3 separate regions of the Homo sapiens genome follow, and all the other regions are linked to region 1. Evidence: fine-mapped expression QTL. A gene starts in region 1. Each other region holds a variant in brackets. All regions are shown on one strand. Distances are between the middles of the regions.

The links.
Region 2: its variant is fine-mapped to the expression of ADCY3 in whole blood (TOPMed, PIP 0.90).
Region 3: its variant is fine-mapped to the expression of ADCY3 in whole blood (TOPMed, PIP above 0.99).

What each region holds. Positions count from the first base shown.
Region 1 is chr2:24,916,052-24,924,233 of GRCh38, reverse strand. ADCY3 (adenylate cyclase 3) reads left to right here and starts at 3,997. Exons shown (of 22, transcript NM_004036.5): 1 at 3,997-4,551; 2 at 5,050-5,921. The coding sequence starts at 5,247. It overlaps LOC124907742 (a long non-coding RNA gene), which reads right to left and starts at 3,890. Exons shown (of 2, transcript XR_007086246.1): 1 at 3,662-3,890; 2 at 2,776-3,236. RefSeq lists silencers at 3,443-3,532, 3,543-3,752, 3,793-3,852, 3,883-4,612 and an enhancer at 7,015-7,264.
Region 2 is chr2:24,467,382-24,475,563 of GRCh38, reverse strand. No RefSeq gene overlaps it. Among named protein-coding and RNA genes, the nearest start is that of NCOA1, 20 kb to the left of the region's middle. The variant A/CA (reference allele first, on the strand shown) is at 3,584.
Region 3 is chr2:24,864,037-24,872,218 of GRCh38, reverse strand. All of the region lies in intron 3 of ADCY3 (adenylate cyclase 3), which reads left to right. Among named protein-coding and RNA genes, the nearest start is that of ADCY3, 52 kb to the left of the region's middle. The variant T/C (reference allele first, on the strand shown) is at 3,219.

The DNA of each region.
Region 1 (8,182 bases):
GCCAACTCCGTCACAAACCCTCATATTTACCGGCTTTCCTGCCTTCTCTGTTTTGAGCTTCCCAGGCTCCTGCTCTGTTTCCCTGGAATCACTTCCCCAGTTGAACCACCTGCATGCAGGCCGGGTCTCAAGCTCTGCTTTCAGGCCCCAGACAGGGCTCTCCTGGTGCCCAGCACCAGGGGAGCTAATGATCTTCTCTCTCCCACTTCTGTTTTCCCCCAGGACACAGAGTTCTGCTCTGATCTATTGTTTGCTGGATTCAAGAGCCACCACATTCCCCGGGGGGGCCAAACCATTCTTGTTTATCCAGTAACAATTAATTCTCAGCCATGATTTCTAGTCTTGAACCACACAAACAAAAAGTTGCCTTCAGCAAAGAGGCATCCCATCCAGGCAGATGCTGGATTGAGGTTGGGGGGGGTCAGGATGCCCTCCAAGCTTCGACCTAAGTCTATGATTCTGTCTTCCTTTTAGGACAAGCCACAGGGGCAAGTCACCCATGCAGCCATTTGAGGTCCTGAGTTGTGTGTGTATAGATTTCCTGTATCATTTGATTATAAAAGCGAAGCATGCCAGTTGTCCAGGTTACATCAATACAAAATGTATAGCTTGGAAAGTGAAAACAGCTCCCCCATAATCCCACCCTTTTCACTCGAGGGTGGATATTTTTCATTGCCCTGGGACCAGGACATTCTCAGTATCAGGGAATGAGGCCAGCTGGTCCCTTCAAGGACAGCCAGTGCCTTTATAAAGTACCATTTCTTCTTAGGGAGACTTCCATTCATTCAATGACTATTTTTTGAGTATCTACTAGGTGCCAGGTACTGGGGAAGCCACTGTGAGTGAGATGGATGAGGCCCTCGCGGCATTTTCCCTGATCTCCTCTGTGGCAGGATGTCAAGCAGCTCTCTTGCCCAGGAATATTCACCCAGATGCTTCTGGCTCCCCGGGAGTCCTCGCAAGGGCCTACTGCTGTCCCACTGCGTTTCCCATATCCACAGGGAAAGGCCGTGCCAGAACCCTGAACGCGGAGCAGGGATGGGAATGTGCTGTGCTCTTCCTGCGGCTGGGCCTTTGCAGGGAGGCTCCAGCCACCTGGAACGCCTGCCTTTCAGGCCCATCAGATCCTTCCCTCTTGCCCTGAAAGGCCCTGTCTCTGATCACCTCAGCCAGAAGTCACCCCCAACTGTAACCTGTGTACACCTGAGGGTCTGCCTCATGAGTCAACATGGTGCCTTGGCAGAACTATAAGGCTCCTCTGGTTTCCCCAGTGCCCGCTGAACAGGGGCCCACAGAGGAGAGATAGGGATGGTGGAAGAACAGGGAGTGGGACAGTGAAGCCAGCAGGCAGGGGCTGGAGAGGCAGGGATCAATTTGTTGTTGTTCTTTTTATATGAGGGTGCCTCTGTGTGGAACTCTCTCCCTTCATGGGGTGGGAGGCTGGGGCATGAGTGGTGGCAGAGGGCCCAGCAGAGAACCCTCTCAGCTTAGGAGCTGGGCATGGCCTTGCGGACAGGGTGCCACACTGAGAATCACAGGGCTGGCATGTATGCCAAGGAAGGGGAAGGGACCCACAGAGGGTGCAACATGGTGTCTCTTGTGCCAAAGCAGGACCAAGCACAAGATTTATCAGCCTTTTAAAAAACATTAGCACATCTCTCCCCCAACCCCCACTTTTTTTTGAGATAGGGTCTCATTCTGTTGCCCAGGCTGGAGTGCAGTGGTACGATCTTGGCTCACTGCAACCTCTGCCTCCTAGGGTCAGGCGATTCTCCCACCTCAGTCTCCTGAGCAGCTGGGACTTCAGGCACCCGCCACCACGCTCGGCTAATTTTTGTATTTTTTGGTAGAGACAGGGTTTTGCCATGTCAGCCAGGCTGGTCTCGAACTCCTGACCTCAAGTGATCTGCCTGCCTCGGCCTCCCAAAGAGCTGGGATTACAGGCATGAGCCACTGCGCCTTGCCGTACATTACATCTCCCTTTGTAAAACATAAAAGTCATGTCCTCTTTAACATCATGTGACAATTCAAAATAAATGTTTAAACCTCCAGCAAAGTCCAGGCATGATGGCTCACACCTGTATTCCCAACACTTTGGGAGGCTGAGGCAGGCAGATCACTTGAGGTCAGGAGTTCGAGACCAACCTGGCCAACATGATGAAACCCTGTCTCTACTAAAAATACAAAATTTAGCCAGGCATGGTGGCAGGTGCCTATAATCCCAGCTACTTGGGAGGCTGAGGCAGGAGAACTGCTTGAACCCAGGAGGCGGAGGTTGCAGTGAGCTGAGATGGCCACTGCACTCCAGCCTGGGCGACAGAGTGAGACTCTGTCTCATAAATAAATAAATAAATGCCTTCCTTTTTAAAAAACAAAAACAAAAAACAAACCACAAATAACTCCCTCCAAAAAAAATCCCCCCCAAAACCCAAAAACCTCCAGCAAATTAAAACAATGGGGCAGCCCAGAGCAGTGGCTCATCCCTGTAATCCCAGCACTTTGGGAGGCTGAGGTGGGCGGATCACTTGAGGTCAGGAGTTCAAGACCAGCCTAGCCAACATAGTGAAACCCCATCTACTAAAAATACAAAAATTACCCCGGGCTTGGTGGTGTGTGCCTGCAATCCCAGGTATTCAGGAGGCTGAGGCAGGAGAATTGCGTGAACCTGGGTGGTGGAGGTTGCAGTGAGCTGAGATCACAACACTGCACTCCAGCCTGGGTGACAGAGTGAGACTCAGTCTCGAAAAAATAAAAAATAGAAATAAAATAAAACAATGGGGCAAAGTTTTGCTTTATTTAAATTACCAAACTCCTATATCTGATGTTAGGTCCCCTACCTTTGGAATCAAAGCCCTGCGAAGTATGGGCTGAAGGTGGCGCCTTTTCAGACAGAGTGTGAGGGAACGGTAGAAACAGCAGTGGCAGGATCGATTCTCTAATGGATCCATTCCCCGAGGGATGCAAGGTGATGCCTGAGGTTCTGGAAGGGGTGCCCGCGGATAACTCTCAGGGGCATGGGGTGGCAGCTCCATCCAGGGTCTGGATAGCCAAGTTTCTCTCCCCTCTGTTCATTCCTTCAGCTCTCCCCAGGGGAGATGACCCCCTATTGCTGCTGGCTGTCCTCAGCACTTACCTTCCCACACATGCTTTTGTCCCTTTTGTCCCAAAACATTCTATCTCTTTCCTCTTCCTTTATTTAAATTCCCAAAGCCTGTAGTTGATCTTAGCACGGTGTTCTGTCAAATGCAAGGAAAATAATTTATACTATGGTGTAAGAGACTGATAGGTTTAACTATTCAAAGGAGCATTCGCATCTTTAAGGGACAGTTTGTGAACTCAAACACATCTCAAACGGGTAGAATGTGCACGGGAAATCTCTTCGAAGCAGGGTCTCAGGAACTCTTCCAGTTCCACGTGTGTAGTGCCCACCGGGCCACCGCCACCCGCCTCCTGGGAGCAGGACAGGGCTCCGCTGCCGAGCCCCTCTGCGGAAAGCTCAGGCCCGGCGCTCCGGAGTCTGGGCTCCCGGGGTGGGCGGGGATACTTAGGCCCCACGTGCCCCGCGGCGGAGCGGTCCCCAAACCTGAGCCCTGGCCTCTGCCGGCCCGGAAGGAAGCCGCGGCGGAGGAGGGGGCGGCGGGGTGCCCCGAGCGCGCCTCACCTGCGGGCGGGCGCGTCCCGGGCTTCCATCCTCCTAGACCGGGCCTCCTCGCTGGAAGGGGTGGATTCGCCCCAGCCCTGCCGCCCACCGCCCACCGCCCACGCCCGCGCCCGCGCCCGCGCTTCCACGCAGCCATCGCCCCAGCCCGCCGCCCGCGCCGGATCGGGGGCCGCCCGGGCCCCTCCACCTCTCGCCCGCGCGGGTCCTGGGACCGCCGCCCGGCGCCTCCCTCGCCGCCCCACTCCGGAACGCGCCGCCGAGAGGGCGGAGACTGGGGCGAGGGAGGGGCCGCCCCGCCCGCCTCCCGCCTCCCGCCTCCCGCCTCCCGGGGCCTGGAGCGCGCGTGGCCCCGGAGCCGCCGGCGCCGCGCGGGGAATAGCTGTGCAGCACGCCGAGCCCGGACTCGGCTGGCTCGGCTCGGCGCGGGCGGGCGAGAGGATGCTGGCGGGCTTCCCCGGGCTCGGCCCGCGCTCCCGCCGGGGAGGGCCCCGCGCGCGCCCCTAGCAGCCGCCGCCGCCGCGGGTGCAGGGGAGGGGTCCGGAGAGCCGCGCTCGCCGCCGCCCGCGCCTGCCGGCCCCCGCACGGCCCCTGCCCCTGAGCCTCAGCCCCAGGGCGGGCGCGCTGGGCCGGCGCCCACGGATCTCCCAGCCCTCGTCGCCGCCTCCTCCTTCCCCCTGCGGCCGGGCGCCCGCGGATGCTGAGGGGCAGCCCTGCGCCTCTCCCGGTCGGATCCCGGGCCTGACGGCGGGAGATCGCGCTCCGGCCGGGCCCCGAGGCGCTGCCGGGGCGGCGCGGCTCTGCGGGGAGCAGCCCTCGGGCGCGCCGAGCTCTCCCGCCCCAGCCCGCGCGGGGACCGTCCCGGAGCACGCGGTGGCCGAGTTCCCGCACAGGTAAACGCAGGGGCAGGGCCAGGCTTCCGGGGGGGAAGACAGCGCCCCGAGCGTGGGAAGGGGGCCGGATCGGAGCCCGAGCCTCCAAGGGTTTGGTGGAAAAAGGAAGTAAACAGAAGGAAGGCTCAGGAATCCCCCACGATGGTCCTGATTTCTTTCCGGCACATTTTATTTACAGCTTCTAAGGACTGGGCCTGGAGGGAATTTAGGTGAGGAAGTCGGGGACTGAGAAAGAAGAGATGACAGAGAGAAACCGGTTACCAGGGATGGAAAGGCGGCTAGGCCCTTCCACAAGCCAGGGACAGGAAATTGAGTGTCTGGCGTGGACAGGACTAAGTGTGCCTGCGGTGGGCGGTGGTGTGAGCCGGGGGTGGCAGGGAAGGCCCTGGGTTGGGAGGCTCTTGCAGCAGAGATCCTTTTATGAGGGTTAGGGCGGGTCATGGGGAAACCGCAAGGTAGGAGGGAAGAGGTGCTTCTACTCAGCAATGCCCTTTTCAGTTCTAGCTGATCAGTGCTACCTGTGCTCTGGAAACCCGCTCTGCGTTCCTGCTGGAGGTGGCCTCCCCTCCGCCCCAGACAAGAAGAGGCCCTCAGCCCTCCCCCGGTCTCAGAGAGCCCTGAGAGGAGGCCCAGTCCAGAGCTCTTCCTCCGTTCCCAGTCCACTTCTCTAGGGCCAGTAGCAGACACCAGCCAGTATGCCGAGGAACCAGGGCTTCTCCGAGCCCGAATACTCGGCCGAGTACTCAGCCGAGTACTCCGTCAGCCTGCCCTCCGACCCTGACCGCGGGGTGGGCCGGACCCATGAAATCTCGGTCCGGAACTCGGGCTCCTGCCTGTGCCTGCCTCGCTTCATGCGGCTGACTTTCGTGCCGGAGTCCTTGGAGAACCTCTACCAGACCTACTTCAAAAGGCAGCGCCACGAGACCCTGCTGGTGCTGGTGGTCTTTGCAGCCCTCTTTGACTGCTACGTGGTGGTCATGTGTGCTGTGGTCTTCTCCAGCGACAAGCTGGCTTCCCTCGCCGTGGCTGGAATTGGACTGGTGTTGGACATCATCCTCTTCGTGCTCTGCAAAAAGGGGCTGCTCCCGGACCGGGTCACCCGCAGAGTGCTGCCCTACGTGCTGTGGCTGCTCATAACCGCCCAGATCTTCTCCTACCTGGGCCTGAACTTCGCGCGTGCCCACGCGGCTAGTGACACGGTGGGCTGGCAGGTCTTCTTTGTCTTCTCCTTCTTCATCACGCTGCCCCTCAGCCTCAGCCCCATCGTGATCATCTCCGTGGTCTCCTGTGTGGTGCACACGTTGGTCCTGGGGGTCACCGTGGCCCAGCAGCAGCAGGAGGAGCTCAAGGGGATGCAGCTGCTGCGGGAGGTGAGTCCTGCCCACTGTCCCCCCACAGCGTCCTCTCCTGCAGCTCTCACCAACTTGGGACCTGTTGGAGTTGCTGTTTGCTTTGCCTTTGAGTCAAAATGTGTCCTGGGGGCCTCCGGGGCTCTCACCTCTCTCCCTAGTCCCTGCCTTTTCACCCCTGTGCCATTACCCGGAGTCTGCCTGTGCTTGGCCCCAGGGAAAGGAGGATGTCAGGGCATTGGGCCTCAGGGCCACTCTTCACCTGTGCCCAGTCTAAGTGTGTGACAGGAAGGCCCACCCAGGGCTGGTCTTGAGGCAGCATTGTCCTGGCCATTCCCTGTCAGTGACCCTGGCAAGGAGGACCTCCCTTGGGAAGAGGGCTCCTTGATTCCCATCTCTCCCCAGCACTGACTAGCTGTGTGGACTCAGTGCCCCTTTGTCAAATGGGGATAACGTCCGCTCTGCCTGCATGACACGGTTGTTGTCAGGATTGCAGGAGATGTGGGGGAAAGCGCATTAGGATACGTGAAGGGCTGCACAGAGGGAAGACGCAGTTGTCATATTTCCTGCCTCCGGGAGCTCGGGGTGCCTGGGGAGTTCTATGAAGTGGAGAATGGTGGTCTCCCCACTGAAGGTGTGGTGTGGGGATGCAAATGGGGACAGTCATGCCGGCCACTGTGACGTAGGGTCTCCTGGTCCTAAAGCACGCATTCTGCTGGTCCTGGAGCACGCTTTCTACTGGAAGGGGTGGAATTTCGGCCTCAGCTTAACTATTATAGTATTGTGTTCCCACCAAGTGCCAGGCCCTCAGGGGCTGCAGAGACCAGGGGACCTGAGGGACAGTAGGCAGTGTGTGTCCCTGGGGAGCCAGCAAGCCGGTGACCAGAGAATGAGGCGGAGATGTCTGCATCTGGGTTTGGTGCCCAGCCTGCCAGCCTCGTGCCAATGATGGTCAAGAGAGGCTCCCCCACTTCCTGCCCCTGCAGTGCTCTGTCTGGTAGAGATGTCTTAACTCCCACGCCAGCTCTGTTCTGTGGTTAGTGGGGCTGGGGTAGAGTCAGCTCTGAAGCGGTGACCTTCTGGGTGTCAGGAGAGGCAGGGCGTGCCCAGAATCCTTGCTGACTGACGTGAGCCTCTAGCAGCCATGGAGGTCAGTGCCTGGGTCCTGGAGACCAGGTGCTATGTGCAGGCCCAGGGTGGACAGACAGAATCTTCCACTCCTCTGCTGATTTCTCCACTCATGTCTCATCCTGCTGATTTGTTCTAGAAATGGGTAGAGGATGTTAACATAGGCAGGGCCTGGCAGGGCATCTAGCCCAGACTACCCATTTTACAGAGGAGGAAACAGAGATGAGTGATAACTGGTTCACTGTCACCCAGCACTTTGGTGGCAGAAACAGGACGGGAGCCCAGGCATTGACCCCCAGCCCAGGGCTCATTTGTGTATGTTCCTTGGAGCACTGAGAGCTGCCTGAGAGCAGGAGCTTTGCTTCCCACCCCACCTCCTGGAGACAGTGGCTATGTGCTGCCCTGCCGTCCCCACCCCAAATCTCTGTAGAGGGGGCTGTGAGTTTCTGGTCATTGACTAGGTGGAAACACCAGTCATATCTCTTCAGGCCATGCATTAGCCAGTCCCAGGTTCTTTTTTTTTTTGAGACGGAGTCTTGCTTTGTTGCCAGGCTGGAGTGCAATGGCGCGATCTCAGCTCACTGCAACCTCCGCCTCCCAGGTTCAAGCTATTCTTCTGCCTTAGCCTCCTGAGTAGCTGCGATGACAGGCACGCGCCTCCACGCCTGGCTAATTTTTGTATTTTTAGTAGAGACAAGGTTTCACCATGTTGGCCAGGATAGTCTCGATCTCTTGACCTCATAATCCGCCCGCCTCGGCCTCCCAAAGTGCTGGGATTACAGGCGTGAGCCACCATGCCCAGGCATCCCAGGTTCTAAGGTCTGAGGTCTGAGGATGACTGGTCTCTCTAGCTCCATCTCCTCAGGTGGACAAGGAGCTTATTTTGAGGCTCCTGGAGCTTCCAGGGAAAAGGACTGAGAAGGTATGGCCACAGGGCTGGGCCGGGGCCTGGGTGCCCCACCACGTGGCTACTCGGAGATCACTTCTAAACTCATGATTGTTCTCCTTTGAGTATTGCTAAGACATAAAACCCTAAAACTTAGAAAACAGAAAAAAAAAGATAGAAATCAAGAATAAAAATATTAGCATCCCAGGGGAGCCTGACCTTGGCATGCAAGCAGTGCCTGGGAGGCAGCTTTGGGAACAGAGCAGGA
Region 2 (8,182 bases), 450 kb after region 1:
ATATTTTTTCAATATGTCTGCATGATCTGGTGATTTAAATTTTTCTGATTACAGCATAAAATAGTATAGAATTTAGAATACATATAGAAAAATACACAGATCATAAGTGCCGAGCTCAAAGAATTGTCACAAAGTGAATAATATGTGTAATCAGAACCCAGATTGAGAAATAAAATCTGACCAGCAACCCAGAACATCCCCTGATGCCCCCACTTCCCCCAACAAAGGTAACTGCTAAACTAACTTCTATCTCCATCAGTAAGTTTTGCCTTGTTTGGGGCTTTATATAAGTTGAATTGTATATTTTGTGCTCTTTTGTGCCTGGTTTCTTTCATTCAACATTACGTTTTATGAGATTCACCCATGATGCTACAAGTAATTTGTTTTTTCTCTTTGCTGTGTGGTATTTTGTTTTATGAGTACGGTGCTGCTTATCCATTCCACTGTTAATGAACATTCTTTCCTGTTTTTGACTATTACTAATAGTGCTGCTATGAACATTCTCATACATGTTTTTTTGTGAATATATCCGCTCATTTCTGCTGGATATATATCAAGCCTGGGTATATATCAAGGAGTGGAACTGCTAGTTCAAAGAGTATGTGTTATATAGGTTCAGCATTCATAGGTAGTACTAACAGTTATTCAAAGTGGTTGTACAGGTTTGTGTTTTTATTTATTTATTTTTATTTTATTATTATTATTATTTTTGAGACAGAGTCACGCTCTGTCGCCCAGGCTAGAGTGCAGTGGCACGATCTCGGCTCACTGCAACCTCTGTCTCCTGGGTTCAAGCGATTCTCCTGCCTCAACCGCCTGAGTAGGTGGGACTACAGGTGCGAGCTACCACACTCAGCTAATTTTTCTTTTTCCTTTTTTTTTTTTTTTTTTTTGTATTTTTAGTAGAGACAGGGTTTCGCCATGTTGGCCAGGCTGGTCTTGAACTCCTGACCTCAACTGATCCACCCGCCTCAGCCTCCCAAAGTGCTGGAGTGCAGTGGCACGATCTCGGCCTCCTGGGTTCAAGCGATTCTCCTGCCTCAGCCTCCTGAGTAGCTGAGACTACAAGCATCTGCCACCACGCCCAGCTAATTTTTGTATTTTTAGTAGAGACGGGGTTTCACCATATTGGCCAGGCTGGTCTTGAACTCATGACCTTGTGATCTGCCCACCTCAGCCTCCTAAAGTGCTGGGATTACCAGGCATGAGCCACCGAGCCCGGCCCAGATTTATGTTTTTAATAGCAGTGCGTACAAATTCCAGTTGTTCCACATCCTTGACAATTCTTTATTTTAACCAGTCTGGTAGGTGTGCAATATCTTATTGTGATGTTAATTTAGATTCCTCAGATGACTCATGAAGTGGAGTATCTTTTCATATGTTTAAGGGCCATTTGAAATGCTCTTTTTTGAGGTGCCCGTCAAAATCTTTTGCCCACCTTCTGATTGTATTGTCTCTTTTTCTTATTGATCTGTAGGGGTTCTTTATATATTCTGGACAAAAATCCTTCTTGGGATATATATATTACATATGTCTTCTCTCATTATGTGGTTTTCCTTTTTACTCTCTTAATCTTATCATTTGATGATCTTAAGTTCTTAAAATTAATGTTTTTTAGTTTTGTTGGCTTTTCTTTTCTTCTTCTTCTTTTTTTTTTTTTTTTTTGGCATGGCCTTTCTCTGTTGCCCAGGCTGGAGTACAGTGACATAATACAGTGACATAATCATAGCTCCCTGCAGCCTTGAACATCTTGGCTCAAGCTATCCTCCTGCTTCAGCCTTCCAAGTAGCTGGGACTATAGTCATGCACCACCACATCCAGCTAATTTTAGAATTTTTTTGTAGAGATGGGGATCTCACTACTCACTATGTTGCCCAGGCTGGGCTCAAACAATCCTCCCACCTAAGCCTCCCAATGTTCTGTGATTACAGGTGTGAGCCACCACACCCTGCCTGGCTTTTCCTTTAGGCTTAGTGCTCTTAGTGTACTGCTTGAAAAATTTTAGACAGAGCAATTATAGTAGTTGGAAAAATAGTATAGGTCCATACAAAACTAAAAATAAATTAAGAACAAAAAACATGGCATTCATTAACTTCAAGAAAAAAATCAAACTAGAAACAAGACATAATCACAATATACTACTTGGTTCAACAGTGACAATTATTTACACAATTATAATACAATCCTTGACTACTGATTTATCCAAAAATTATGATAACTTTTTGAGGTCTCTGTGGGGGCCCAATAAGTAACAACCATCTTCCCAACCTGAGTTCTGAACAAATGGAAAAATAATGCAAAAGAGTGGCAGAGAGAGGTTAAATGTCACCTTTATTATAATCGATTAGAGGCCAAGTTGCAGAGTGTGGCATCAAGTGTTTTTGCAAAGTGGGATGGTTAAGACAAAACCAGACATAGATGGAATTACCCCCTCAGTCACATACGCCATGCTGGATCAAGGCGGGCCTTCTCACATGAGTCCTTCATGGTGCCCATGCAGCTGGCAGGAGCCCCTTTGGGTCAGCAGATGATTGTTTGACATCCAACACCACTAGATTTTCAAGGGAGTAGTTTAGTTTAAAAAGGAAGAAACTTTATCTATAATTCTTCTGGTAAAATGAAAATCACTCTAGGCAGGTATTCATGTAGGAGTATTTTTTTTATTTCAGCTTTTATTTTAGATACGAGGGGGTACATGTACAGGTTTGTTACGTGGGTATATGGAACCCAGATAGGAGCATAGTACCCAATGGGTAGTTTTTCAATCCATGCCCCACCGCCTCCCCTCCCCCTTTAGTAGCCTGCAGTGTCTATTGCTCCCATGTTTATGTCTGTGGGAGCTCAATGTTTAGCTCCCACTTGTAAGTGAGAACATGCAGTATTTGGTTTTCTGTTCTTGCATTAATTTGCTTAGATTATGGCCACCAGCTCCATCTATGCTGCTGCAAAGGACATGATCTCATTCTTTTTTATGGCTGCATAGTATTCCATCATGTATCTCTACCATATATATTTTTTTTATCCAACCCACCATTGATGGGCCCCTAGGTTGATCCCATGCCTTTACTATGTATGAAATGTGGCAATGTACATACAAGCACATGTGTCTTTTTGGTATACTGATCTATTTTAGGAGTATGTTTTCATTAAGATGTACCTAATGCTATAAAAAATAAACTCCTGGCCAGGCGCAGTGGCTCATGCCTGTAATCCCAGCAATTTGGGAGGCTGAGGCGGGCAGATCACCTGAGGTCTGGAGTTTGAGACCAGCCTGACCAACATGGAGAAACCCCGTCACTACTAAAAATACAAAATTAGCTGGGCGTGGTGGAGCGTGCCTGTAAACCCAGCTACTAGGGAGGCTGAGGCGGGAGAATCCCTTGAACCTGGGAGGCAGAGGTTGCAGTGCGCCAAGATCACACCATCGCACTCCAGCCTGGGCAACAAGAGCGAAACTCCGTCTCAAAAAAAAAAAAAAAACTCTCCTAAATTTATGTCTCAACCACAATATAAATTGAGTTATTAATGATATAACAGGCCAAGTCACGTGTTCCTCATCAGTGGAGGCAGCTCTGCCATTTTC[A/CA]CAGTTGACTTCCAAGGTTGCACTAGTCCTTTCAGTATACAGAAACATGGGAGGGAGGTTCTTACGGGCCAGGCATAGAAGTGCCACTCATTTCCACTCATGTTCGACTGGCGAGAGACCTAACTGCAAGGGAAGCTGGGAAATGTAGTCTAGCTATGAGTGCAGGAAGAAGAGGAGCCTACAAATTTTGGTGAACAGCTGTCTCTGCCACTGGATGTAAGGTTCATGTGGGCAGGGGCTTTTTTGTTCCTTATTGCCTCTTGTGAGTGACTCATAGTGGGCATTCGATAAATGTTTGTTGAATAAATAATGTAGTGGGAAGAACATGGGCATTGAAATAAAAAAGACCAGAATCCTAACCCGAGCTCTGCCACTTCGTAATTGTATTAATTTAGACAAGTTACTTAAATTTCTCAAGGCTCAATTTGTCATGTATAACGGAGATGAAAATATACTTGTGATCTGCTTCCCAGGCCATACTAGCCAGATGTGAGAATAGGTAGTAGCTGAAATTATGCCGACAAAAATAATAATAGTGGCTGGGCTCAGTGGTTCATGCCTGTAATCTCAGAATTTTGCAGACTGAGGCAGAAGGATTGCTTGAGCCCAGGAGTTCAAGACCAGCCTGGGCATCATAATGAGACCCCCATCACCACAGAAAATTTAAAAATTAACTGGGCGTGGTGGCCTGCATCTGTAGTCCCAGCTACTTGGGAGGCTGAGGCAGGAGGATTGCTTGAGTCCAGAAGTTCAAGACCAGGCTGGGCAACATAACAAGAACCTGTCTCTATTATTTAAAAAAAAAATTTTTTTAATAGTTATCATTTCCCTGGTCCTGCTTCCTCACTAATATTTCTGAAATAGGTCTCTGATTTCCTCCCAAATTACTCTGAGAGTGAGGAAGGGGATGTAACATGGAGAGAGTGGTTCTCTCATATATATATATTTTTAAATTTTATTATTATTATTATCATTATTTTGAGAAGGAGTCTCGCTCTGTCGCCCAGGCTGGAGTGCAGTGGCGCGATCTCGGCTCACTGCAAGCTCCGCCTCCTGGGTTCATGCCATTCTCCTGCCTCAGCCTCCTGAGTAGCTGGGACTACAGGCGCCCGCCACCACACCCGGCTAATTTTTTTTGTATTTTTAGTAGAGATGGGGTTTCACCGTGTTAGCCAGGATGGTTCTCGATCTCCTGACCTCATGATCCACCCGCCTCGGCCTCCCAAAGTGCTGGGATTACAGGCATGAGCCACCACACCTGGCCTCTTCTTCTTTTTTAAAATGTATTCTTAAAGCACTATATTTGTCCAAGCAGCCAATAGCGTCTCCATTTCCCTGTTTTCTGCCTCTGGCACCCTGGAGTGGCCAGATGGTCAAGGCTTGGGCTGAGGCTACAGGTTCCCAATGCCTTCATGCTCCCAGATCACTACGTGCTCTCGGTTCCTTCCAGAGCCCCATGGCTCTGCCACGTACGCTGCCCAGCAAGGGTGCTCCAGGTCATACTATCTTGCCTTAATAGCTTTCAATTGCAGTGGCTTTGTTTGTTTGCTTCTATTCTTTTATTCAATCTCACTAGACTAAGGCAGAAATCCCCAGAGCAGAGACAGCATATAATGTTAGCGACAAGCAGCTTACAATATTCATGACATCCCTCCCACTTTCACCCAAATTTGCCCCATTGTCCTTAGAATGAGCTCTTTCTCTGGACTTCCTTGATTCTTGAAGCAAATAGATTCCCTCCCAACAGACTTCCAGACATTTATAGATCTGTCAGAACTCTGGGCTGAACCTAGGTTTGTCGGCCTAGCTGGGATTCCCTGCACCCCACCCCTGTGCTTTTCTGCTTTGCAGGGTTGATGTTGGCATTCAATTAGATAAAGTAGGTAAAATACCAGAGTTGTTGGTGGCATCAAAAAGGTACACAGTACATGTTGCTTCTTTTCATATTATTTGGGCTACTTCTGGCATCACCAAAATTTATAGCTATACATCACTTATTCCCCTGAAGGTAGTCCCCTGGCTACAAGCACCCTTGAATTTGAGACAGATGGCATAAATACTACATCACCTTGGTACTTAGGGCAGGGTCTGCAAATTCAGTTAATAGACAGTCTTGGATATAGGGCCTGCAGGGATTGCATTTTCCAGAACAGGAAATAGAAAACTGATATGGGCCACAAGGGAGTGATACCATGAGAGCAGCATCTTCACACATTATTTTTCCAATTATCCACAGATATTTGCTATTCAAGTGGGGCATGGGAATTACTAAGGTAATTACTAGCTGTCCCAACAACTGCTATGTGGACCCTTCATTCCAAAAAAAGGGAAGAAGATATGAAAGAGAGAAAATATGCAAAATAAACAATATTCTAACCAATGCCTTTTGGATGAATTAGAGCAGAAAAGAACAGAAATGTGGAAAACAGGAGATGCTTGCAGTGACTCACAAATGAGCAGATGAGGGCCTGAACCAAGAAGGCAGTTGTTTAACTGCTTTGATAATGGCAAGTATGAGACATTGTAGAAGAAAAAATTAGGATAAGTTTTTGATGAGTTAGACATGGGACGTGCAAGAGAAAAAGGAACAGAAAGAATGATGAGGTTATTAGCTTGAGAAGCAGGGTAGTGCCTCTGAGCTTAAGGCATAGGACCGAGAGTGAGAAGACCTGTCCCTACCACTTTGAACAAGTGACTTAACCCCTCTTAGCCCACTCTTCTCATTTGTAAAGTGTCTCTGCTCACCACATAGTGGTTTTGTAAGGCACAAATAAGATGATGTGCAGGAAAGCTGCAATGTGCTGGACAAGTGAAAGGCAGTAATGTTCATCATCATCATCATCAGTAAGGAAGCTGGAAAGGGAATATAATGTGACTAAGAGTATGAGAAATTCAATTTTAAATATGCTAAGATGTTGGCTTAACATCAAAGTGAAGATAACAGAAAACTAGCTAACGTGGGGAATGACTTAAGGAGTTAATGAGTCAGGGCCATTATATACAACAACAACAACAACAACAAAATATGTTTCCATAAGAGGCCAAGTCTAATCTGTCATTGATGGGCATTTAGGTTGATTCCATGTCTTTGCTATTGTGAATAGTGCTGTAATGAACATACACATGCATGTGTCTTTATGGTAGAATAATTTGTATTCCTTTGGGTATATACCCAGTAATGGGATTGCTGGGTTGAATGGTAGTTCTGCTTTTAGCTCTTTGAGGAATTGCCACACTGCTTTCCACAACAGTTGAGCTACACTCTCACTAACAGTGTATGAACGTCCCATGGAATACTATGCAGCCATAAAAAAGAACAAGATCATGTCCTTTGTGGGAACATGGATGGAGCTGGAAGCCATTGTCCTTAGCAAACTAATGCAGGAACAGGAAACCAAATAGCAGATGTTCTTACTCAGAAGTGGGAGCTAAATGATGAGAACACATGGACATAAAGAGGGAAACAACAGACACTTGTGCCTACTTGAGGGTGGAGGGTGGGAAGAGAGAGGATCAGAAAAAATAACTATTGTGTACTAGGCTTAGTACCTGGGTGACAAAATAATCTATTTAACAAACCCCCATAACACAAGTTTACCTATATAACAAACCTGCACATGTCCCCTGAACCTAAAATAAAAGTTAAAAAAAAGGGGCCAAGTATTCTAATTTATTGAGCTGATTTGGGATATAAGGTCAACTGTGGAACTGAGGCATATAATCACTTGCATAGTAGAATAAGCATACGCAGCACACCTGAGCAATAGCGTTACTGGTATTTCTGTGCTATGAGAGCCTGGATGTGGCTGCCTTAACACTACAGACCCTTGACTGGAGCTTCATTCATCAATGTCCTTGGATGTCCACCTATGAAGTGCACAAAAAGAGCAAAAGCAAATTTGACTAAAATGGGAAGGGGAAATGGTGTAGGAGTAAACAGTAAAAAGGAAAAGAAAGCCAAGATAAATGTAAGAAAGTAAAAGGAGATGTTGAGTAAAGGATATTTGTCCATGGGATGCAACTATAAATAAACCAGGGAGAAAAAAGATTTTTATGTACTTAAGAATGGAAATCAATGAACTGGACTGAGTATTGTATCAAAACTGTAAGGCATATGATTGTGATGGAAGACACCTCACTTCCTTTTCCTGAGAGAAAGCCACAGGTAATCACCCTTTGTAAAATAAATCATTTTGTATATATGAAAAGAGAATTTGCTGTTTGAAGGAATCCCATGATGGTTCCTCATATAAAGTAAGAGTTCACTTCATAAAGCAAACAATCACTCCCATTTGTGAAATGGATGAATTGGTTGATTGCACAATTTATCACTTGTGTATAGACCTGTATTGTCATCTACTAGGACTCTGTAGATCAAAATAAAGATGACGTTGAACCTGAAGTTCAGCTAGAGATAACCCATTTTCTACCTTCTCTCCCAACTACCTCTTCTTGAGTAAGTTCCCTGGAGATGCCACACCACATCTCCCTCCAAAAGTAACCAAAAAATGAATGACTGAAGAAAGAGGGGGCCCCCGGCCTGGGGCCATCTGGTGCGAAATGTGAGCTAAGCAAGTTGCTTTCCCTCTCTCAGGACTT
Region 3 (8,182 bases), 52 kb after region 1:
TCTCGGGACCAAGGTCAGGGTCAGGGGCATCACGGGCATTCCTTCACGTCACGCCTCCACCACCACTCTTGCTGGTCCAACCGCAGATCCACCCTGTGCACCTGCTCATGCCGTGGGTGGGGCCTTGACCCATCCTGCGGCCTCAGGGCCCTGCTGGGTGAAGTGTGTCAGCCTCACACCCCCACTCAGGGGAGCTCCTCCCTCCCTTACCTTCCCATCTGAGGTCACTGCTGAAGAAGGAAAACCAGCCTGTTCCCCGGGGATGCCCTTGTTTACATTCTCCATCTGGAGAGAGGCCTCGCTGTCCCTGCCTCGGTTTCCTGGCTTTCCTCCAGTCTCTTCCATGGCCGCACCATCCTCCCAGTTCTCATGTCACTCAGGCTTGTACATAGTTTTGGCCTGGATTAATCTCACATGCTTTTTGAAGGTCTCCAGAAATTACACCCACCAATTTCCTGTTATCCATAGGGTTATTTCCCCTTCAAAAACAAACTCAATAGGTTGACACTATGATTCTCTGCTCTGGGAACCATGTCATCTGTGTTCAGGAGGTTCTGTGTGCTCCTGATTCACTGAAATTGCTGTTTTCATAGATGCTGCCACTCGGGTGGACAGGGCCTTGGTTTCGGGGGCCACTCCGGAGCCCTTGGCTTGCAGGAGCCCCACCGTCGGGCCTCACTCACATTCTCTAGACAGTGCTGTTCCGAGGCACACACTAAGTCATTTAGCTGATGGGCCTCCGATTCCACTGTCCTGGGGATGTTTTCTTCCTCCCCGTTTACCAATCTCATTCCTTACAGAAGGCCCCCATAGGAGGGGATTTTCCCTGGCTGCCATTGTGACAAAGGTCCAGGCTTAGTAGCCCATCGTATTCGCCCCTTCCCCTGGGCCCTGTGACCTGTGGTTATTGAGGAGCTGCTGTGGCCTGTGTATATTTAAAGAATCCTCCTTTCCTGGCTTGTAAAGCCCCTTGAAAGGCATTCTTCAACTCTGTTTTTTTTTAATACTGTCTCATTTCTTGTTTGTATCTGATCTCGCACTGTGGAGGCATCCCTCTGGGTTCTCTGCACTTAAAAAAAAAAAATGCATGTGTCACCGCCTAGCTAGGCGAGCATTCTTTTTATATAACATTTGCGCAGTTTTCAGCATGTCTGTCTGCATTGATCTTGTCTGTCTCATATTGTACAATCTAGGACATCTTAACTCACACTGAACCGTCTTGTGGAGGCCCCCTGGTGTGATGAGGAAGGCCCTGTGTTTCACCCTGGGGCTGTTCTCGTGTAGATAATTTAGATAAGTTATCCACCCTACAGAGCCTCACTTTTCCTCATCTGCAAAGTGGAGGTATTGACATTTGTCTTGTAGGTTTCTTGAGGGTCAAATGAGAAACCCAGAAGTGCTTTGTAACCCATAGAGCTTTTTTAGAGGTAGGCCGAGTGCACGGGGCCATGAGGCCTGCTTTCTAACACCCAGGGCCATATGCTTCCTCTGGGCAGGGTCAGTGCAGGGAGCCTGGGCACCAGCAGAGAGGGTCATCCCTGGGTGCCCCAGGGCTCCTGAGGGTGCTAGCAGCCTGCCCGGGCCACAGTGGTGCTTCTCTGCATTGCCTGCCCACGCTGCAGTGGCAGAGCAGACATTGGCCCCAGGATGGAGAGGTCCAGGTTAGGTGGAAGGGAGGTGCAGAGGTGTGGGGGGAGTTGAGGGGTAAGGTGCATCCTCAGGCCTAGCTGGGCACACAGCCGGAGCCTAGAATTCTCCAAGTGGGATGAATTTGTCTAGCCAGGCTCTGTCCTGAGTGTGGCCTTGGGCTCGTTGCTGCCCCTCTTTGGACTTCAGTATCCCCATATGTAAAACTTTTGAGAGATTTTTTTTTCTTTCTTTTTTTTTTTTTTTTTTTGACATGGAGTCTTGGTCTTGTCACCCAGGCTAGAGTGCAGTGGCACAATCTCGGCTCACTGCAACCTCCGTCTCCCGGGTTCAAGCGATTCTCCTGCCTCAGCTTCCCAAGTAGCTGGGATTACAAGCACCTGCCACCACACCTGGCTAATTTTTTTTTTTTTTATATTTTTAGTGGAGACGGGGTTTCACCATGTTGGCCAGGCTGGTCTCAAAACTCCTGACCTCAGGTGATCCACCCGCCTCGGCTTCCCAAAGTGCTGGGGTTACAGGCATGAGCCACCGTGACCTGCTGAGAGATTGTTTTAAGGGTAAGAAGGAATCTATGTGAATCCCACTGGGATTGGTAAAGCACTGTTACCATTGGGAAGGATGGAATCCTGCCCCCTGTGAGTTTCCATTTACCTACATTCTCCTTACGTCTTCTGTCTCTGTTCAAGAGAGAAACCTGCCTGCCATTTTCCTTCCTTTCCATGTGCTTGACAGGTTTTGGTATTACGGTTATGCCCAACTCATTAAATAATTTGAGAAGTTTCTAACCCCTGATAGTTTGAAGATAATTTGGGTTATTCCTTAAATTTGGAAGTCACAGCCAGGCATGTGGCTGGCCTGTAGGTGTGGCCAGGCAGGTGGCTATGCCTGTAATATCAGCACTTTGGGAGATTGAGACAGGAGGATCACTTGGGTCCAGGAGTTCAAGACCAGCCTGAGCAACAAAGCGAGACCCCATCTCTACAAAAAATTAAAAAATTAGCTGAGTGTGGTGGTGCATGCCTGTAGTCCCAGCTACTTGGGAGGCTGAGGTGGGAGGATCGCTTGAGCCCAGGAGGTTGAGGCTGCAGTGAGCCATGATTGTGCCACTGCACTCCAGCTTGGGCAACAAAGTGAGATCCTGGCTTTAAAAATAAAAAAATAAAAATAAAAAAGGCCCTAATGAAGAAGTCCTATAGGCCTGGAGTGTTCTTTAGGGGAAGATTCTGTTTCCGTCATAGATAATAAGGTTGTTCAGATTTTATATTTCCTTTTATATAGGTTTTAGAGAGGTTTTTTTCCCCCAGAAACATGTCCATTCAAATTTTCAAAATTTTGGCATAATATTCTTAATATTTTCTTTTTATCTTTTGTCTGAAATGGGTAATGATGTTCCTTTTTTTCATTACTGAAGATAATTTGTGCCTTTTTAAAATTTTTCTTAATCAGTCTTGCTAAGGCTTATTGTTTTAGCCTGTTCAGCAGACCACCGTTAATCTTTGTTGCTTTCTTTGTACATTTCTTATCTCTGATTTATTTATTTATTTTGAGACGGAGTCTGGCTCTGTCAC[T/C]TAGGCTGGAGTGCAGTGGCGCGATCTAGGCTCACTGCAAGCTCTGCCTCCCGGGTTCACGCCATTCTCCAGCCTCAGCCTCCCGAGTAGCTGGGACTACAGGTGCCTGCCACCATGCCCGGCTAATTTTTTTGTATTTTTTTTTTTTAGTAGAGGTGGGGTTTCACCATGTTAGCCAGGATGGTCTCCATCTCCTGACCTTGTGATCTGCCTGCCTCAGTCTCCCAAAGTGCTGGGATTACAGGCGTGAGCCACCGCGCCCAGCCTCTTATCTCTAAGTTAAACTTTGTCATTGCCTCTTTTTTCTTTGGGCTTAATTTGTGTCCTTTTTTACCTTCTTAAAATGGAACTTTATTGTTGTTTTTTGGAGACTGAATCTTGCTCTGTTACCCAGGCTGGAGTTCAGTGGCGCAGTCTAGGCTCACTGCAACCTCTACCTCCTGAGTTCAAGGTATCCTCTTGCCTCAGCCTCCGAGTAGCTGGGAACACGCCCGGCTAATTTTTTGTATTTGTAGTAAAGACAGGGTTTCACCACGTTGGTCAGGCTGGTCTCGAAACCTCGGCCTCCCAAAGTGTTGGGATTACAGGCGTGAGCCCCCAGGTCCAGCCAAAATAGAACTTCAGATGACCGATTTTCAGCCTTTCTTTCCTAAAACATGCATTTAATGCTACAGATCTCACTCATTACATTGTTTGAGCTTTATCTCACAAGTTTTAATATGCCATATTTTCAGTGTCGTTTAATTTAAAATATTTACTAATTTTCATTGAAATGCCTTTGATCCATGGGCGACGTAGAAGTGCACTAAGTTCTAAACATTTGAGGATTTGTTTACAATTATGTTGTTTTTTATCTTTATTCTGGTCAGAGAACATACTCTAATTTCAAGTCTTTGAAATTTCTTGGAACTTGATTTTTGGCCTAGCATGTGGTCAGTTTTGATGCACTTGAGAATAATGTATATTCTGCCAAATCTGTCAAAATCTTTAAAAAATGAAATAATGTCAACTATGTCATATTTGCATCTGCCCCAAATTAGTACTTACCTCTTTAGTCATGATGCAAGGACCTCACAACCTTTTAACTTCATTTCACAAGCCTCTGCCCCCCACTTTCTGCTTATTAGTATAATGTGTTTTAGTTCAACATATTTTAAACCCCACAAGTCCTTATTGTGATTATTTTATGTAATATTCTTATTAATATTCTTTACTTATATTTACCCACAGTTTTGCCCTCTCAATTGCTCTTCCTTTCTCCATTTCTTTGCTTCATTTTCTTGAAGAATTCCCTTTAGTATTACCTTTTATGCTGATCTCTTGGTACCAAATTCTCTCCATTTCTGATTACCTAGGAGTGTGCTTATTTTGCTTTCATTTTCGAAAGATACCTGTCTTCATCCGTTTTGTGCTGCTACAACAGAATACCTGAAACTGGGTAATTTATAAAGAACAGAAATTTACTACTTACAGTTCTAGAGGCCGGGAAGTCCAAGATCAAGGCACCAGCATTTGCTCTGGTGTCCATACATGGCAGAAGGGTGGGCTAGCTGAATGTTATGTGATGCCCCTTTTAAAAGAGCCTTAACCCTCATGGCCTGATCCCCTCTTAAAGGCCCCACCTCTTAATAGTATTACATTGGCAGCACCTGAATTTTGAACAGACACATTCAAATCATGCCAAGACTTTTTGCAGATAATTCTAGGCTGCCATTTTTTACTTCTAGCCCTTTAAAAGCATTTCACTATCCTTCCCGCTTCCTTCATTCCTGTTGAAATGCCAGTTGTCAGATAGACTGTTGCTCCCGTTACATTAATGCATACTTTTTCCTGTGGTTGCTTTCCCAATGCTCTTTGTTTTTGGTTCTCAGCAGTTTTACGATGCTGCGCCTGGGAGTTTTCTTTGCAGTTGCTCTGCTTGGTATTCAAAGAGCTTCTTGAATGTTGGTTTGACATCTCTCGTCAGTTTTGAACATTTTCAGCCAGTATCTTTTTATTGCTTCTTCCCATTCGCTCCTTTCCTCTAGGACTCAATATCCTTGTTAGACATTTTTACCATGTTCCAGAAGTATCTCTCTTCTTTTTCTGAATCTTTTTTTCTTTTTGCACTTCAGACAATGTTTTGATGGGCCTAATCTACAGTTTACTAATCCTGTCTTCCTCTGGTTTGTCAGATCAGTGGTTGAGCTCTTTTATTGAGTCATCAATTTCAATTATATATTTTTCTGTCCTAGAATTTCCATTTGATTTTAAAAACTGGACTTAGGTCCCTAACGATGTATTCCTATTTTGTCATCTATTTTTTAGAATATATTAAACATTTATTTTAAAGTTCCTGACTGACAACCATAATAATACCAATGGGTATGCATTTTTTTGTTGTTGAAACCTGGCATCTTGGCCTTTTTTTTTTTCTTTTTTTTTTTTTTTTTTTTTGAGACAGGGTCTTGCTTTGTCACTCAGGCTGGAGTGCAGTGGCTTATGCATCTTCGAGTTCCTGGGCTCAAGCAAAACTCCCACCCCAGCCTTTTGAGTAGCTAGGACTGCAGGCGTGTGCCACCATGCCCAGCTAATTAAAAAAATGGTTTTTTGTAGAGATGGAGTCTCACTGTGTTGCCCAAACTGGTCTCAAACTCCTGGCCTCAAGCAATCCTCCCACTTTAGCCACCTGGCATTTTTAAAAATTAAATACTAGATATTGTGGATGGGAAATAGTAGTGCTTCTGAATAATGTTGTGTCTCTCCAGGGAAGATTTACTTTTCTTGTGGCAGATGGTTAGAGCAGGGGCAGATAGGAAATAGCTTCTCAGGGGTCTTACCTGAAAGGCTGGTGCTTTTCTCATGGTATCTTGAACTCCTCAGCAATGTGAGGCTACTGAAAGCTTAGCCTCTTAGTCTCACTTTCTGCTTGGATTCTTGGTCTCTTGCCCCATGCAAATACTAAAGGGTAATAGTGTACAGAAAGTCAGACTCACTGTTGTATGGTTCTCTTTCCCCGGGGTCTTAGCCCCTCTACTCTCTCTGCCTTGGAATCCTTGCTCACAGTCCTTGTTTCTCCAGCCCCTTGAAAGCCCTCATCATTGCTCTCTCTCCAGCCTCTCGACCCTGGTCGCAAGGGAAAAGTGGTGGAGTGCATTGGGCTCACTTAAATGTGTTTCCCTTCCCCTGAGATCTTGGCCCCTCAAATCCTGGCTGCTTTGGTTGTTTCCATTGCCTTTAAAGAGCTAGGTTCTTTTTATGTATTTTATCCAGCTTTTATAGTTGTTCTTGGCTGGAGGGTTGGCCTGCTATAAGATCCTCTATAGCAAACGTATACATGTATAAAATCGTAAAAGTATGAAAAAGGGTATACTAGGAAAAGTAAGTCATCCCACCTTCATTTCCCCTAGCCATCCAGCCCCCATCCATGAATCACCAGTCACTATTATCTTTTTAATGTACCCTTTCAGAGGTTTATAGAATTTTCACACACACACACACACACACACACACACACACACACACACACACAGATGATAGCCTATTCACTCTTTTGTACTAAATCTATTTTTCTTTTTTTGAGACAGAGTCTCACTCTGTTGCTGAGGCTAGAGTGCAGTGGTACAATTTCGACTCACAACTTCCGCCTCCTGGGTTTAAGCGATTCTCCTACCTCAGCCTCCCAAGTAGCTGGGACTATAGGCATGCACCACCACGCCTGCCTAATTTGTGTATTTTTAGTAGAGATGGGGTTTCACCACGTTGGCCAGGCTGGTCTTGAACTCCTTACCTAAAGTGATCTGCCCGCCTCGGCCTCCCAAAATGCTGGGATTACAGGCACTAGATCTTTTCACCTACTATCTTAGAGAGCATTCTAAGTCTGTATTGCATTGCCACAACCTTCTTAATGACTGTGTTCAGTCATTATACAAAAGTAACAATTTATTTTGTTGCGCTCTCCATAGATTTCTAGGTTATTTCCAATCTTTTGCTACTGTAAACATTGCTGTAATAAATATCCTTGTAGCGGTATTTATTATATCATAGTATATATGTGCAAGTGTATCTGTGGAAGAATAAAAACCTAGAAGTGGAATTGCTGGATCAAAGGACATTTGCATTTTAAAAATTATATATATAGCTACTGTAAAATATACATAGTATAAAATTTACCATTTTAATCATTAAGTATACAATTCAGTGGCATTAAGTGCATTCACAATGTCGTGCAGCCATCACCACTGTCCGTTTCCAGAACTTTTTCATCATCCCAAAGAGAAACTCTGTGCCCATTAAACAATAACTGCCCATTCTCCCAGACTCTGGTAACCACTGTTCTACTGTGTCTCTGAATTTGCCTCTACTAGGTCCTTTATATAAGCGGAATCATGTATTTGTCCCTTTTTGACTGGCTTATTTCACTTAGCATGATGTCTTCAAGGTTCTTCTGTGTCGTCGGGCAGATCAGCATTTCTTTCCCGTTAAGGCTGATATCTCCTTGCATGTATACACCACGTTTTGTTTGTTCATTTGGACATTTGGGTGTTTTCTGCGGCTTTGCTATTGGGAATGGTGCTGCTGTGAACACGGGTGTACAGATATCTGTTTGAGTCCCTGTTTTCAGTTCTTTTGGATATATACCCAAAAGTGGAATTGCCAGGTCATATGGTAGTTCTGTGTTTAATTTTTTGAGGAATCTGGAATGTGCTTTTTTTGTTTTGTTTTGTTTTTTTGAGACAGAGTCTTGCTCTGTCGCCCAGGTTGGAATGCAGTGGTGCGATCTCAGCTCACTGCAGCTTCCGCCTCCGGGTTCAAGCTATTCTCCTGCTTCAGCGTCCCGAGTAGCTGGGATTACAGGTGCCCACCACCACTCCCAGCTAATTTTTCTTGTATTTTTAGTAGAGACGGGGTTTCACCATGTTAGACAGGCTAGTCTCGAACTCCTGACCTCTGGTGATCCGCCTGCCTTGGCCTCCCAAAGTGCT